Linked DNA regions of Homo sapiens: region 1 is linked to region 2. Evidence: fine-mapped expression QTL. A gene starts in region 2. The other region holds a variant in brackets. All regions are shown on one strand. Distances are from middle to middle. Region 1 has its middle 31 kb from the start of LRFN5-DT. Region 2 holds the start of LRFN5-DT (LRFN5 divergent transcript).

Evidence for each region. PIP is the estimated chance that this variant, and not a neighbour inherited with it, causes the effect.
Region 1: its variant is the best candidate, but not a certain one, in a credible set for the expression of LRFN5-DT in sigmoid colon (GTEx, PIP 0.67).

Annotation. Positions count from the first base shown.
Region 1 is chr14:41,560,101-41,565,495 of GRCh38, forward strand. No RefSeq gene overlaps it. Among named protein-coding and RNA genes, the nearest start is that of LRFN5-DT, 31 kb to the right of the region's middle. The variant A/G (reference allele first, on the strand shown) is at 2,984.
Region 2 is chr14:41,591,050-41,596,444 of GRCh38, forward strand. LRFN5-DT (LRFN5 divergent transcript) reads right to left here and starts at 2,289. Exons shown (of 2, transcript XR_001750740.3): 1 at 1-2,289. LOC124900349 (small nucleolar RNA SNORA31) reads left to right here and starts at 3,413; the gene lies at 3,413-3,542.

The sequences.
Region 1 (5,395 bases), 31 kb before region 2:
TTCAATAATATTTTGGTGGAAAGTTAACATACTTATCCATGTCGTATCAGGCCTCAGAGTCAGTCATGCCTTTATTTTAATACAATTCCATAGCATTTTCAATACATACCTATTCCTTAATTGTTTCTACTAAGCTGGGTTCCATTTGCTTTCTTCACATGGCACTGTATTGCAGACTTTATTCTAGGGTATTGTGTTCAAATCTACCAGGTGTATTGTTAGCTGTTTTCTCACATTGTATTTGTCATATTATGTGCTATAATTTACCTAATCTGAGCTCTTTAACTGAACTTTAGACTATTTTAAATTTTTCTTTTTTATAATTGATAAAGCCAAATTCTAGCCTTTAAGAAACAAAGTGCCCTTGAAAAATGTATGCATAACTCCATGCATATGTTTGTGCAATCTTATAAGAATTTCTTCAAGATTTTGAGGTATAAACTTTCTAGGTTCAAGTGTCATGCATATTTTAAATTGACGTAGAAATTGCCAAATTACTGTTTAAAAATGGATAAGCTTTATTGCTCACTAACAAGAAATGGAGTGCCCATAATCCTTGGCAACAGTAAATTTAATCAATTCTTTACATTTTATTTTTTCTCTGTCTGTAATAAGAAAAATATCATTTGTAAGAACATGTAATTGAAATAATGAATCTGCTTTGTATTAGAACTACTTAATTGACCTTGTTTATTAAAAGGTGTAGGGGCATGAAGTGAAAACTAAAAGTATCCTGAGCCTAGTCTCAGAATTAATCCCTGCTAATGGTTTTGACACTCCTTGTGTAATGATTAGAGTTCTGCTTTTTTATTTACAATATCCTGGATATCCCTTAGTATTATTAGCACACTATTTTAAAAAGTTAAGGAGTATTTAACTGAATATATTTATAATATTGCATTCAACCAGCTTCATACTGGTAAATATTAAAGTTGTTTGCTATTTTTATAAAACCACAATAAACATTCTTGTATATAACATCTTTTTTGAGTATACCTACAAGAATGAGAGATTTTAAATGAGTGAAAGAAAAAACTGACTCAGTGATTATAAACATAGTTTTGCACAAAAAGGTGCAACAATTAGACCACATAAATCTGATGTTACAGAATAATTAAAAGGAAAGAGATGGAAAACTTTGGTGCACGGTACATTCAAACCAACATTTAGTTTGGTAAATGGTAATGTGCTACAAAATGTATAATCATAATTTTTCATGAAACCAAAATTTTAATGTAACAAAAATTATTCCTCCGTTTTAAGAACCAATGTTAATCAAACTCATGAAGGAAAAAATGCGTTTATGCAGAAATTCATATTGGAAGATATGACAGCCACTCAGACCAAAAACCATTTGCCTATAGAGCATGCAAGAGATTGAGAGACTGAGGGGTTTGCCCTGGATCACATGCATGCTTGGTGGTAAAGCAGATTAATTTTTTTGGCAAAAAAATTATGTGGTACAGCCTAATTTTGTTGTATGTATAGATTGCTGAGCAGTCAAATCAAGGCTTTAAGGTATCCATCACCTGAATAACACACATTGTACCCATTAAGTAATTTTTTATCATCCATCCTCTTTCACTTTAGTCTCCATTCCCCTTGCTAGTCTCCATTTTTTACTATTATCATTCCACTCTCTAAATTTGAATTCAGGCTGATCAATCCCAGAATCTTCTCTCTTTGGTACCGCACTATACTATGCTATACTATATCGAAGAGGAAAGATTGCCAAAATCAAGGTAGACAGTATTCTTAGAAAGCGTAATGTTCTGTCTGAAAATGTTACCAATACAAGAATACAAGCAATGGGGATAAGGCAGATGCCCAGGTGTGAGAAGCTAAAGGATCTTTTATAGCCAGTCTTGTAGTAATGTGCTTCGAAGTGGAATTCCTGAGAACTGCACCTGCATATGGAGGTAAAGGTACCTGTGAAAATTTAAATGTTACATTTATTGAATATAAGCAAGGCCTTGAAAGTGCAATTCTGATCTGTAGAAACATTAGCATTATAAAATTTCAATAAATATAAGAATAAAATATTGTAAGTAAAATTTCACAAGCAACATTGGTCATATTTCAGACACTAAATAGATATTTATTGAAATGTTGTTTTATTATTTTACAAGGATGTACACATTTCATAACACACTATGCTAGAAGTAGAATTTTAAAACATTTTATTAATTCACTGGAAAATACAAAATTTCCAAGATTTTCACATTAAATAATAGTAAATAGAAACATGAAATTTATTTCTCTCGTAACTGCTGCTAGACCATAAATGAATTAGAATCTTTAAATGTTGCCTTTGTTGAGAAGACTAAACCAGACTAAACAAAAATCACTGAATAATAAATTTATTTATCTTAATATGTGTATAGTCCTAAGCAATTATAGAATTAAAAAAAAAAGTATCCAACCACCAAGTTCTAAATTAATGTGCTTCCAGCTCTTCACTATATGTTAGACATGTATTTTATTTAATAGAGATTATAGCAGAACTGACTTCAAGTTTGGCTGAATTTCATTAATGGAGGAGAGAAAAGATACCATAACCCATTATTGTGTGTCTATTACAATGGAAGAATGTACTTTACACCAATGAACAAATAGAAACATGACTTTGTGTTTATATATGTTTTGTAGTCAATTAATGAAATAATTATCTCATTTTAATGAAATGTAATTTTGACTATCCAGTCCCACAAATGAGTTCATAGTATGATGTCAGACATTCTTGTTTTGCAAAGAAATTTATCATACAATTCCTTTAAAGAAATGTGCTATCTAATGCATTTTAAACACTTTTTTCAGGCACATTAAAAAGTAAGCACAGTTGAATTATGAGGCATTTGAAAGCAAGTTATGATATTAATATAATGGTCTTTACGATATATATATATCGAACTGATTCTACAAACTGCCAGTCAAGAATAAGATTTTCATAAGCATGTAAAGGGAAATTTATAATTTCCAGAGG[A/G]AAAAAAGTGAATACTTTCTCCTCCTGCAGAATAATCAGAAAGAAAGGAAGGTTTCTCCATGTGGTAATTCCAAATATTGTTCTGGATCCAGAAGCTGTACAATTTAATTACAAGAAATACTATATAATTTATCTTAGGTCAACCAAAGCTTGGTGAACTACTAAGAAGCACATATTGCATTTTACAGCGGTTAAGAACACAGATGTCAGTCTATGTGGACTGGGATCAGATATTTAATCAGCTGTGAGACTTCAGCAAATTCCTGGGAATTCAGTTCCTTCATAATTGTGCTTTAGTTTCCTCATCTGTAAAACATAGATTAATACTAATATTAATAAAAATTCCTTAGCAGCATTAGAAGATTGTAGGTTAACTTATACAAAGCACCTAGAATAGTGTCTAGAACATAGTAGGTGGTATGTAAAGATCAGCTGTTGATATTAGTTTTGTGGAACTATATAAGGAAAGATTTTTCTGTTTAACAAGCTTATCATCTAGCATGCATTAGCCTAGGCTAGAGAGTACCCAGGAGAAGTGTCACTGCAGTGTGATAAGTATTAAAATTGAGCAGCTTCAGAGTGTCTCATATCTTGTTTTACAGGTAAGATGCTAGACATCATCAAAGATAAAATTTAATAGTTATAAACCTCCTGGTAAATACACTTGCCTGTGATAAGTTATCTTTGTCAAAGTTATTTGCCCTTTAGCATTTTCATAGACTCGGATATAATTGAATTTTCCCTTTGCAAGTCTTTGGAGAGTTCCACATAGGAAAGCATTAGTAGAATGTATAGTGTCATCAGCTACCAATTGCTATACAGCTAATGTAAGAGGTGAGCACATCAGAGATTGATAGTCTATTGCCTACAAATATTAAGACATTATGTAATTACTGATGCTATTCATCTATAGTTTTTCTCCAGTCTACAAAATACCAATGCCTTAATATTTAATGTTGGAGACAATACTTATGAAAACCAAACAATCTATATGATATTTTCTAATTTTTATCATTAAGGCCACAACTGTGTCAAACACAGACTAATCATAAGGCTTGCCAAGCCTTTTAACTTTATAGGGAAGTTGGTTGGATATTTAGGAGTGGGCTGGCCCCTACCTTAATATAATTGTACAAGTATCTCTGCAATTGTTTTTAAGCTTTTTCCCTCAGGAAAAAAATGGAAAATATATTATTATTATTATTAATTAAAATACATAACTGACAATGTATAGTGTTATCCAGGATTCCTAGGAGACCAGTTTAGCTATAGGGTAAATTTTTAAATCTCAAATTAAAAGTTGATAAATTAATAAAACACATGTTCTATGTGCTATTATGATCAAGTATTCTTTTTCTTTTTTTTTTTTTTTTTTTAGACAGAGTCTTGCTCTGTTGCCCAGGCTGGAATGCAGTGGCGCAATCTCAGCTCACTGCAACCTCTGCCTCCAGGGTTCCAGCGATCCTTCCACCTCAGCCTCCCAAGTAGCTAGGATTGATTACAGGCTCACCAATACGCCCGGCTAATTTTTGTATTTTTAGTAGAGATGGGGTTTGACTATGTTGGCCAGGCTGGTCTTGAACTACTGACCTTAAGTGATCCATCCACCTTGGCCTCTCAAAGTGCTGGGATTATAGGTGTGAGCCACCGTGCCCAGCCAAGTATTCTCTTTCTAAACCCTAAACAATAAAATCATTAAAAAAAAACCTCAATTATATATGTTTTCCTTTAAGCTATAGCATTCTTTCTCTGATAATACAACTGATTCAAGCTCTGGTCATCACCCTCTTACAACAATCAAGACTGCCCCTAGAGACTTAAGATTTTTCAGTCCTTGAAGGAGGTCTGTGTGTACAATATAGAGCAAATATCTACATCCATGTACTGCATGAAATTGCAATTAAAGCCAGAATTATGCCCTAGGAATCTAGTCAGCAAGGATCTAAACCATATCTTTTGGCAAATATAAAACAGGTAACTTAAAACTCTTAAGGAATCATGATACACAAGCTACGAAACGACTCAAGAAGCACAAAGATGTGGGACTCTACACTGAAGAGGGACCCTACACTGAAGAGGCCACAAGAAATTTGACTGAAATTGTAAGAGATGCCTAATGAACAGCAGGTTCTCAGATTGCTGAGGAGCAAATAGTCACGGAACTACAAAAGGAAGAGGTAAACAGTAAATGAGGGAAAACTCTAGAAGAAAACTATATTCTCTGTTTACTTTTCCCCTGGTCTATATGTAAATATCGACAAAGTGAAGAGTCTCTGTACTTCAGAACGCTTAGAGATAGTTTTATTTCCTAATTAATAACAGTGTGAAAACTTCTCAATTAAAAATTATACAGTAAAATATGTACACAGAAATGGAAGCTTAAGAATTGCATTATCTTTATTCTGAGATGAA
Region 2 (5,395 bases):
CTATTCAACATAGTATTGAGGAAATACCACATTTTCTTTATCCAGCCTATCAGCTAAATAATAAGAACATATGGACACACAGAGGGGAACAACACACACTAGGGCCTTTTGGAGGGTAGAAAGTGGGAGGAGGATCAGTATCAGAGGATCAGGAAAAATAACTAAGGAGTACCAAGCTTAATACTTGGGTGATGAAATAATCTGTACAACAAACCCCCATGACAAGTTTACCTATGTAACAAACCTGCACATGTCCCCTGAACTTAAAATAAATGTTAAAAAGTAAAACAAAACAAAACAAAACAAAAAAACCAACATAGTTTTGGAATTCCTGACCAGGGCAATCAGGCAAAAGAAAGAAATAAAGGGCATCCAAATAGGAAATCAAACTATCTCTTTTTGCAGACGCCATGATCCTATATCTACAAAACCCCATAGCCTCAGCCCAATAGCTTCTTAAGCTGATAAACAATCTCGACAAAGTCTCAAGATACAAAATCAATAAGCAAAAATCACTAGCATTCCTATACACCAACAGTAAAGCTGAGAGCCAAATCAGGAGCGTACTCCCATTCACAATTGCTACAAAAAGAATAAAACACCTAGGAATATAGCTAACTAGGGAAGGTGAAAGACCTCTACAAGGAGAACTACAAAACACTGCTCAGAGCAATCAGAGATGACACAAACAAATGGAAAAACACTTCATGCTATTGAGTAGGAAGAATCAATATTGTTAAAAGAAATGTATAGATTCAGTGCTGTTCCTATTAAACTACCATTGGGATTTTTCAAAGAACTAGAAAATATTATTTTAAAATTCATATGGAATCAAAAAAGAGCCTGAATAGCCAAGGCAGTTCTAAGCAAAAATAACAAGCTGGAGACATCATGCTACTCAACTTCAAGCTGTAGTCCAAGGCTACAGTAAACAAAATACCATGGTACTGGTACAGAAGGACACATAGACCAATGGAACAGAATGGAGACCCCAAAAATAAGGCTGCATGCTACAACTATCTGATCTTCAACAAACCTGACAAAAACAAGCAATGAGGAAAGGATTCCCTATTAGATAAACAGTGCTGGGATAACTGGCTAGCCATATGCAGAAGATTGAAACTGAACTCCTTCCTTATACTGTATGCAAAAATTAACTCAAGAGGGATTACTTAACCGTAAAACCCAAAACTATAAAAACCCTGGAAGACAAGCTAAGCAATACTATTCAGGACATAGGCATGTGCAAAGACTTTATGATGAAGATGCCAACAGCAATTGCAATAGAAGTAAAAATTGACAAATGGGATCTTATTAAATTACAGAGCTTCTGCACAGTACAAAGAAACTATCAACAGAGTAAACAGACAACCTACAGAATGGGAGAAAATTTTTGCAAACTATGCATCTGACAAAGGTCTAATATTCAGCATCTTTAAGGAACTTAAACAAATTTACAAGAAAAAAATAAGGAATCTCATCAGAACATGAGCAAAGGACATGAACAGACACTTTTCAAGAGAAGATATACATGTGGCCCACAATCATATGATTAAAAAGCCCAATATTATTCATCATTGGAGAAATACAAATCAAAACCACAATGATACCATCTCACATCAGTCAGAATGGTTATTATTAAAGAGTCCAAAAAGAAAAAAGAAAAAGATGCTGTTGATGTTGTGGAAGAAAAGGAATGCTTACACACTACTGGTGGGAGTGTAAATTAGTACATTGTGGAAGACAGTGCAGCAATTCCTCAAAGACCTAAAGACAGAAATATCATTTGATCCAGCAATCCCATTATTGGGTATATACCCAAAGGAATATAAATCATTCTGTTATGAAGACACATGCATGTGTATGTTTATTGCAGCACTATTCACAATAACAAAGGCATGGAATCAACCTAAATGTCCACCAACAGTAGATTGGATGAAGAAAATGTGGTACATATATAGTATGGAATGGTACATAGCCATAAAAAAATGAGATCATGTCTTTTGCTGGGACATGGATGGAGCTGGAGGCCATTATCCTTAGTAAACTAATGCAAGAACAGAAAACCAAATACTGCATGTTCTCATTTATAAGTGGGAGCTAAATGATGAGAACACATGGACACATAAAGGGGAACTACACACACCTGGGCCCATCAGAGAGAGGAGGGTAGGAGGAGGGAGAAGTTCAGGAAAAATAACTAAAGGGTAGTAGGCTTAATGCCTGGGTGATGAAATAGTCTGTAAAACAAACCCCCATGACATAAGTTTACCTATGTAACACACCTGCACATGCATCCCAGAACTTAAAATCAAAGTTAAAAAAGAAAAAACAAACAAACAAAAACACAACAGAGCCTAACCTCACATTATCCTGTGTGCCTACTGCCTTGTACCTTTCTATTTGGTTCATGTCATTCTTGCTGCCTAAAATACCCTTTTCTACCTCACTGTGTGGGTCATCCCTACTTATATTTTCAGACCCAACTGAAGTGTCCACTTTTGCAAACCTTCCCTGATCTGCCACATAGTTTATTACTTCCTTTTTTTGTAATACACAAACACACTCACACACTCACACTGACACACACATACCCATTTATTCTACTCTATCTCATTTACTTATGTCTTTCTTTTTTTCATTCCAGAATATGAGGTCATTGTTGATGGAAAAGAACACTTCATTATTTATCTAGCATTGATTTGCTTATTATGATCTGCCTATACTCAGAAAATTATAGGTTTAATGCAAGGTACAGCTAGGTTTCAGGAGCCTAATGAATATCCACTGGCCTATGTTTTAATCCATAATCCAATTCACTTCCTCTTCAAGACAGAATACAATTGAAAAATTATTATAATTCTTACTGCACCTGATTTAATTGTGAAGAAACTCATAAATTCTGTCCTGTTTAGATTAATGATTCTCTTCACAGCACTTCAAATTGTGACACATATTACTATGTTTACTTAGAACTGTAATTTATCTTTTCCTACTCAAATTCCATAAGTATTTTTAAAACAAACTTCTTTTCTCTAAATGTGGGTGAATCTCTGTTCATCACAACAAGGAATCTCATTAATATGCTTTGGAGAGCTAAGAGAAGGAGTCAGGATAGTCTAGTTGTGATTCATTCGTTTCTCTACTTCTCTCCAAGCTTACAGTCTTTGGGCATCAGTTTTGTTTTGTTTTGTTTTTGTTTTACTAAGCTTAAAAATAGCAGTTGAAATACCTGATCTAAAAATTCCTTTTTAACTTTAAATTTTTATTCTTGGGAAATTCAAGCATTTCCAAATATGAATAAATGGACTAATTTGTAATTATTACTGACCTGCATGCATTCATATTAATGTTTAAAGGCATATATTACTTTTTGTATAAGCATAAATAAAAAAATGCAATTAATCATGTATTTATTTATCTGACAGACCTGCAGCAGTTACTGGATGCTGTTAAAGTTTCCACTACAGATGCAAGAAAAGTGTCCCACACTTTCTGTCTGTCTGATTGTGACAGCTAAGATTAAATCAGGTAGGACAGTAATTCCAGAAACATGGCTGGGAGGGAGATAATGTTCATGACACAGAAATAATCTTGTAAACAGCAAATATTTTGTTTTATTCCAATAAAGTAATCTAAAATTTGAATTAAAAATATATTTATAAAGTACTTTTCATCTTCTTAGGCTGTAAATACCAACAAAACATTTTGATTATAGTAACATAAATATAAATCACAGGGGCTATATGTTAAATTAATAGTAAATGTGAATTATGTCATTATAATTTTGACTAAATCAGAGATATAGTACAATTAAATGTCAGATTTGATAAAGTACTTATTCAGTTGGAGTTAAGCTTAATAGATTGTGTATCAAGATTGTTTCATCATTAGTTCATGCTTATGAAGCCTGAAAAAGAACCACTACCAGAATCAGAACAGGGAATAATCAGTTGCCTTTTTATCATGATTGCTAAATTTAAAAGACTTCTGATTGTCTTGGATTGCAGTTTCTTAAAGTCAGGTATTTTGTTTCACTTATTTTACAGTTATTAGCTTAGGACAAATAAAACAAAAACATATTTTAAAATATGATCTACCCCTATTGAACAATATGTTCCATGTAAATTTTATGTATATAAACATATGGCTCTAGTTAATATTAAAATCAAAGAGGAGAGATTTAGGCAGGTGTTTGATTATCACAAAACCAATGGTTAAAAAAAAAAGCCTGGCACACTATCTTATGCATTGCAACACTTAAGAGATGAAATAATAAATAATAAATTTGAAAAGACAAAACATAAATTTAAGGATTCTTTGTACTGACTACATTTAAAAAAACTTACCACCTTATACAAATGTGATCTACATAGAATGTGAGACTCTGAATTTGCAGACTGGGTTATAGCTGAAACTACAGACACACTTCAGTACCTTGCGGATGATATTCACTCATTTTCTTTTCCAAAGTTCAACAACTTTGTTCAAATCTGTTTTTTTTTTTAATGGGTTGCACTCATCAATGTTGCCTTTCAATCTGAGCTTTCACTTCTTAGTGTATACCATGGCGTAGATGCATTGCACTAAGGCAAAATAAATAAATAAATAAAAATAAAAGACTGGGCGCGGTGACTCACGCCTGTAATCCCAGCACTTTGGGAGACCAAGGAGGGCAGATCACGAGGTCAGGAGATTGAGACCATCCTGGCTAACACGGTGAAACCCCGTCTCTACTAAGAACACAAAAAGTTAACCAGGCGTGGTGGCCGGTGCCTGTAGTCCCAGCTACTTGGGAGGCTGAGGCAGGAAAATGGCGTGAACCCAGGAGGCGGAGCTTGCAGTGAGCTGAGATCGCACCACTGCACTCCAGCCTGGGCAACAGAGCAAGGCTCCGTCTCAAAAAAAAAAAAAAAAAAAAAAAGCAAATCAGCCCCAGTGGGAGAGAGTTTACAATCAAGAAAGTGTCCAAGACTTTATACATTTCAAAAAACAGAAAAATATTTTCAGGGAAAGCAATATTAGCTTTCAAAGAGTAGTTGCCACTTGAACTAAACATTTGCTCTATAATTATAAAATCACCTTGCATATTTTTACAAGAAGAATGTTTTCACATTTACATAAACTAGTGTAGCCATGGCCACTCTACACATATTGTTTTTCTTCTTTACATTTAAAGTTTCACTGTAAGTTTCAACTTACACTGTAGTGTTCTGTGCAACATTTTCCAGAAGCTTCTTTCCTAACTATTCAAAGAGGTACTCTTCTAATTCTGCAATTCTAAGAAGAGTCATTCTGATGAAGGGCAGGCAAGCCCTGAAGTGGGGCTAAGCCAGCCAGGGTTCTTGGCTTTGCCCAGGAAAGAATTCAAGGGCAAGCCAGAGGGAGAAGAAAA